Homo sapiens: one gene and its partner. The protein of the gene in region 1 interacts with the protein of each later gene in a pairwise test. Each region holds a gene or a part of one and is shown in the gene's direction. Other genes may lie near its edges.

Region 1 (3,500 bases):
GCGGATCACAAGGTCAAGAGATCAAGACCATCCTGGCTAACATGGTGAAACCCTGTCTCTACTAAAAATACAAAAAAATAGCTGGGTGTGGCGGCGTGCGCCTGTAGTCCCAGCTACTCGGGAGGCTGAGGCAGGAGGATGGCATGAACCCGGGAGGCGGAGCTTGCAGTGAGCCGAGATCGCGCCACTGCACTCCAGCCTGGGCGACAGAGCAATACTCTGTCTAAAAAAAAAAAAAAAAAAAAAAAAAGAGTATTTAGCAGAGGCCAGGTGCAGTGGCTCATGTTTGTAATCCCAGAACTTTGGGAGGCTGAGGCGGGCGGATCATTTGAGGTCAGGAGTTTGAGACCAGCCTGGCCAATGTGGCAAATGTGCTGTCTCTAACTAAAAATACAAAAATTAGCTGGGTGTGGTGGTGCAGACCTGTAGTCCCAGCTACTTGGGAGGCTGAGGCAGGAGAATCACTTGAACCTGGGAGGCAGAGGTTGCAGTGATCCGAGATCATGCCACTGCACTCCAGCCTGGGTTACAGAGTGAGACTCTTCTCAAAAAAAAAAAAAAGTATTTAATAGTGATAAATCTGCAGTATTCTCTTGTAGTTTTTAAGATCATATTATTCAGTCAAAGAAAAGAGCTCAACTTGAAATATTTCCAGAGTTTAAACAATCTTACTAAGCTTTGATGGGTTGTATCTATTCTTAACATGTGAAACTTCCTTATTACCTATAATATACACTAACTTAAATATTGACAATTTTTTTCCAGTGGTTTAACTTGAATTCTCTCTTGACGGGTCCAGAATTAATATCAGATACATATCTTGCACTTTTCTTGGCTCAATTACAACAGGAAGGTAAGTAACGGCTGAACATTTTGTAATGTTACCTTTCGAAGTAGTTAAATAACCAGGCACATTAGATGACAGTGTGATAAAACTGTTTTTCTGGCAGTGGCAGTGAAACAATCTTTAGTTTTGACGTGGTGATAGGCTGTGATTTGGGTGACGCTGTTCAGTTAGAGTTCTCACTGACACCTGGCCCTTCCTCTTCTGAGGATGCTGCTTTCTTTGCAGCCCTTCTAAGTAATGGCTTTTTCTTTTATACATCACATATCACACGGCTGAGAGGAGGGATAGATGTTTTTCTTCTTTGCCTCTTCTAGGCCACTGTTCTTCCTTATAAACTCCAGTTTCTTTGAAATACATGCCCCTAACGGCTGGGCACGGTGGCTCACGCCTGTAATCCCAGCACTTTGGGAGGCTGAGGCAGGCGGATCACGATGTCAGGAGATCGAGACCATCCTGGCTAACACGGTGAAATCCTGTCTCTACTAAAAATAACAAAAAATTAGCCGGGGTGTGGTGGCGGACGCCTGTAGTCCGAGCTACTCGGGAGGCTGAGGCAGGAGAATGGCGTGAACCCAGGAGGCGGAGCTTGCAGTGAGCTGAGATCGCGCCACTGCCCTCCAGCCTGGGCGACAGAGCGAGACTCCGTCTCAAAAAAAAAAAGAAAAGAAAAAAAAAAGAAATACATGCCCCTAGATTAAACTATCCCTTGTCCTTTTGCACTCATCCACAAGTCTCTTTTCATCAGTGATTTTAGGATCTGACTCGTTGTCTTTTTCTCTACTTCAACTACTTTTATCATTCTTAATTATTTCTGTATCGTCAATCAATCCAGTACCTGCCTCTTAGTTTCAAAATCACTTACTCTTGCTTAGCTATTACCAGTAATCATAACCACTGTCAAATCTCAATTGCAAGCATATTACTCTTTAACTACCACCTCCTATCTTTAAACCATGTTTTGTCTGTTTTTTTATTCCAGCCATTCTTTAAACCCTACTGTGGGGCCCAAGCATTTCCTTTATACGCATTCTTCCTTTCTTCTACTGCTTATTTTCTGTAATCCGTCATCATAATCACTCCATTGCATTCTTCAACGTGTTTCCCCTCTCTCCCTCCATCATACTTGAATGACAAAAATCTCAACCCTGGTTAAACCACATCTTGGCCTTGTCCATTCCTGTACCAGAGTAGCTGGACGTGGCTAAAAAATAACATAAAACATGATGATTGGTTTTACTTTTTTCTTAAATGATCTATCCATCCATTCACCCATCCATCTATCAAAGTGACTAGGCCTATTTCTGAAGCCCAGGCTGGAGTGCAGCAGCATAATCACAGCTCATTGCAGCTCCAAACTCCTGGGCTCAAGTGATTCTCTTGCCTTAGCCTGTTGAGTAGCTGGGACTACAGGCTTGTGCTACCACACCTAGCTAAGGTTTTACTTTAAATTTATTATAATCACAAAATTCAGATGAGCCTTTAGTGCTGTCTGATATTTCTACTATGTTTTCTTAGTGATGTACCACCCTCCAAGGTGTTTATAAAAAATTATGTACCACTCTCCAAGAAGTTTATAAAAAATAATGTGCCACCCTCCAAGGTGACTAATTTCACAGCTTATGTCTTTAAACCTTTAAGCACTTTCCTCTCCCTTACACACCTTCCTTGTGGCTTTCCGTTACATTCTGCTGAGAACATAGAAGCAATTAAAATTATGTTCTTTCTACCAGCAAATTTATCAATTTGCTTATATCTTCACCTGTGCTTTGAGCCTATTTAAATAGATGAATGGTCCCCTACCTCTAACCAAAACCAGTCCCTCACTTGTGGGCTGGATCCCAGCTCTTCTCACCTACTCAAGATGTTCCTGCTTTCATCTCTCCACTCTCTTATATAATCAGTTCCCCCCCCCTTTTTTTGTAATATTCCTATAAGCAGTAAAATAAGCTTTTTATTTCCATTGATTAAAAATAAAAATCCTCTCTTAATTCCATGAAACTCCAGCTGCCTCCCCATTTTTATTTTTTCCTTAGGATTGTCTCTAGTGTGCCTTCTCCTTTTCTTGAACTCTGCCTCCTGGGTTCAAGCGATTCTCCTGCCTCAACCTCCCGAGTAGCTGGGATTACAGGCGTGCACCACCATGACCGGCTAATTTTTTTTTTTTTTTTTTGAGATGGAGTTTCCCTCTTGTTGCTCCGGCTGGAGTGCAATGGCGTGATCTCGGCTCACCGTAACTTCTGCCTCCTGGGTTCAAGCGATTTTCTTGCCTCAGCCTCCCGAGTAGCTGGATTTACAGGCATGTGCCACCATGCCTGGCTAATTTTGTATTTTAGTAGAGATGGAAGGGGTTTCTCCATGTTTGTTAGGCTGGTCTCCAACTCCTGACCTCAGGTGAGCCGCCCACCTCGGCCCCCTAAAGTGCTGGGATTACAGGCATGAGCCACTGCGCCTGGCCCCGGCTAAATTTTTTTTTTTTTTTTTTGTATTTTTAGTAGAGACAGGGTTTCACCATATTGGCCAGGTTGGTCTCGAATTCCTGGCCTCGAGTGATCCACCTGCCTCAGCCTCCCAAAGTGCTGGGATTACAGGCGTGAGTCACCTTGCCTAGCCATCTTTTAGTAATGGTATTTGGAGATCACAATTTGAGTGCTGG
Region 2 (3,501 bases), on another chromosome or scaffold:
ATCTGTCAATATTTGATAGACATTTCCTACCAAATATTGAGACTCAGAGACCCATTTGTAATTTAAGTTCTAACCTTTTTACCATAACTTTCAGTCAGATTGTTAGACCTAAAATATCCCTTTAAGGTTTTCCAGATAAAATTCCTGAAACTTAGTCCACATTCATGTTATAAAAGTTTTAGAAAAGAGAATGAACTAGGTTGTCCATTTTATCTCTTACATCCTTGTTTCTTCCTAATGCTTGTTTATTTTTGTACTTACTGTATCTATCAAAGAATAAAATAAAGCCATAGATGTAAATTGTGACATGTCTATTTTCAGGAAAATAGATTGATAAATAGATAATAAGATCTGTGACTTGATAAGTTACGTCTTCCCTCTTGCTGTTGTGTTCCCACATATTGAGCACTATTCAACCAGATTGTTTCAATCTTCACAAATTACAGGGAGCAGATACATTTAACTCGATTTTAGTTTCAGTAGGTTTAAGATAGAGAAAGCATCCCATAAAACTCCATAATGAATTTAAATTTCTTTCAAAAGTGAGAAAAATGTAAGGAAAAGGAAGTAATTAATATGCAAGTCACATAGTGGTAACAACCAAGAAGTAGGGATGTTCTATGATTCAGAAGGGAGAAAAGACTACATAATACAAATACTACCCTCCTATTACCCATGTCACCCATCTCCCAGTGTTGTTCTGTCTTTACCTTGTTTAGGAATTACTGTGAAAACTCTTGGAGAGTCGGGAATCTGTAGACTTGCGTGTTGAGGAAGCAAGCTGGCATTTACTGAATAGCTCTTATGCCATGTGTATGTTTGTACAAGGTTTTTTTTTTCATTCTTGGAGCTGCGTATTGTACAAATAAGTAAACTAACGCTCATCAAAAGATGTTTCACATGGTCATACAGCTGGCGAAACTCTCAGGCTAGGGCTTAAACCCAGATCTTTCTGCCTGCAGAGGCCTGTTCCTCCAGCAGTACTCCACTGTGTCCGTGTACTCCACACACAGCAAGGCCCTACTAACAGTCAGATCATCGTAGTAGTGGTGTATCCCTAGGCACAGCTAGCCTGCCTTAAGAGTCTCTTACAGAGTACTTTTCTTATATTGCTTAAATTTCAGCTTTAGAGATTTGTTTATATTTGCAAGCTATCTCTGCACAAATTCTTGTTCCAAAAACTAAAACTGCTGGCTTGAGGCCTTTGTTAAGCAGTTATAGAGGTTAAATAGGTGACTGTGGGATGGTCCTAGAGCCAGACATTTATTGAGAACGTTGTAACCTAGAGCTCATACTCTGACTAAAGCAACTGCCTGGCAAACTGTTTTGAGAATCGGTTCATGAGTTGATAACTTGTCTGTGTAAACAAATAATAAAATAAAAAAGAGTTTAAAGTTCTCTTAGGACTCCTGAGGGAGAGGACAAGGCACAATAGAAGTGCTAGAGAGCCACCTGTGCTTATAGTCACACACTCTTCCCAAGCAGGTGCCAAGCCTACTGGCACACACAGATGACAAGTAAGACAGATGTTTGTGGAATAAGCAACACACGCATGCCTGTCTTGGGTTCTGTTGAGGCAATGACATTAAAAGCTTAAAGTAGTATTTCTTAATGGCAGTACTACTTTCCTAATGATTGGAAAATTGAGTGGTAGGCTGAGTTTACCCAGTGTCAAGAGGGCCCAAGTGTATTCCAAAATGCATTCCAGGCTGGGCGCAGTGGCTTATGCCTGTAATCCCAGCACTTTGGGAGGCCGAGGTGGGTGGATCACTTGAGGCCCGGAGTTAGAGACCAGCCTGGCCAACATGGCGAAACCCCATCTCTATTTAAAAAAAGAAAAAAAAATTAGCCGGGCATGGTGGCACGTGCCTGTAATCCCAGCTACTCGGGAGGCTGAGGTAGGAGAATTGCTTGAACCCAGGAGGCGGAGGTTGCAGTGAGCTGAGATCATGTCACTGCACTCTGGCCTGGGCAACTCTGTCTCAAAAAAAAAAAAAAAAGTATTCCAGAGAATATCTTAAGAACAAAAAGTGTTCTGAGATTAAATACATTTGGGAAACATTGGTTTTTACAAAGATAAAGTAGATTTTTCTATTGCAGGATTACTTATTATATATTTATTGTTTTAATATCAATAAATATTGTTACTCCACAAAAGTGAGTACCTGGTAAACGTCATCTTTCAAACCTGACTCTGGAAAATTTTCATTCAGTTTCCCAGGAACTAGTGTTCTGTGAAACACTCATCAGGAAATGCTAAACTGGAGACTGTTAAGATAATGAGTATCTCAAACTGTGGCTGAGTAAGATTTCTTAGGGTTTCTTTTTTTTAAGAGACAGACTCTCATTATGTTGTCCAGGCTGGATTCGAACTCCTGGGCTCAAGCAGTTCTCCCCTGTCGACCTCCCACATAGCTTGGACTACAAGCACATGCCATCGTGCCTGGCCAGTTTCTTAGGAATTTTTAAATTCAATATAGATAGAGTAGGCTGAAAGAGCAGTGGTAATCAGATGCACCAAAAAAGAGAAAAATGAAAAACTTAGAAAGTTTAGAATAATCTTTAATCTATCTCTCTTGAGTAAGATCTAAATGTGATTCGCTTCTTATAGTAGCTATGATCATTAGCCAAAGCAAGCCACCCAATGAGGCGTGTTATTATTTGTATTGGCCTAATAATTCACAATGGTAGATTTGAAGTGTGTGCTTTGAATATTTAGGTGATACTCTCAAAAGTGGGTCAATTTTAAGAAATGTTGACAGCAGAATCACTCCTTATCCTTGCACTTTTCACAGGGAAGTGAGCCTCTTGAACCCTCATACATAGTGGGGCATGTGGCCTCAGCCCCCAAAGAACAAAACCTGATTACTTTATTCAATGACGGGGAGCACAGTCAGGTATGCTTTCCATGGTGTCCAAGGTGACAGCAAATCCCCAGTCTACTTTGTCATTTCAAAACTAGCCTAAGTCGAAATTGATAGGGAAAAACTCCACTTGATCCTGAAACTGCTTTCTAAGCATCTTTGTGATCTTAGCTCTGGGGCCTGACTTTGTCTTCTTTGTCTCTTCCTTTTTCTAGTCTTTTTATGGATCATGGGGGGAAATTACAGATTGACTGTTTATTATAATCCTCCCTATTTTAAATCACAGGGTCTTAAAAATGATTTTGTTCGGAATATTCTATGGACATTTGAAGATATCCATATGTTGGTCGGCTCCAACATGCCCATATTTGGAGGAGGCAGATACCCAGCAGTCAGCTTACGTCTCAGGTGAACTAACATCATACCCCTCCTCAAGCTTATGGTATTTAAATTCTTCCTTTAGAATCAGTGTTCCATCAGACTGAGGTTGCAGTGAGCCAAGATCATGCTACCGCACTCCAGCCTAGGCGAAAGAGCAAGACTCGTCTCAAAAAAGAATCAGTGTTCCATCTATTTGGGCATCTTCCTCTTTCTCTAGGTTTTTTCCCCTCCCTCCTTCCCCTGCCAGTTGAAATGG

Evidence for each region.
Region 2: the proteins of ATXN3 (region 1) and EDRF1 interact in binary tests that used the Homo sapiens proteins (3 or more experiments, as listed by UniProt).

The regions. Positions count from the first base shown.
Region 1 is NC_000014.9:92,086,083-92,089,582, reverse strand, and holds part of ATXN3 (ataxin-3 reference isoform), read left to right. Parts: intron 1-765; coding exon 766-853; intron 854-3,500. UniProt on the Homo sapiens protein: Deubiquitinating enzyme involved in protein homeostasis maintenance, transcription, cytoskeleton regulation, myogenesis and degradation of misfolded chaperone substrates.
Region 2 is NC_000010.11:125,726,208-125,729,708, forward strand, and holds part of EDRF1 (erythroid differentiation-related factor 1), read left to right. Parts: intron 1-2,795; coding exon 2,796-2,897; intron 2,898-3,150; coding exon 3,151-3,272; intron 3,273-3,501. UniProt on the Homo sapiens protein: Transcription factor involved in erythroid differentiation. Involved in transcriptional activation of the globin gene.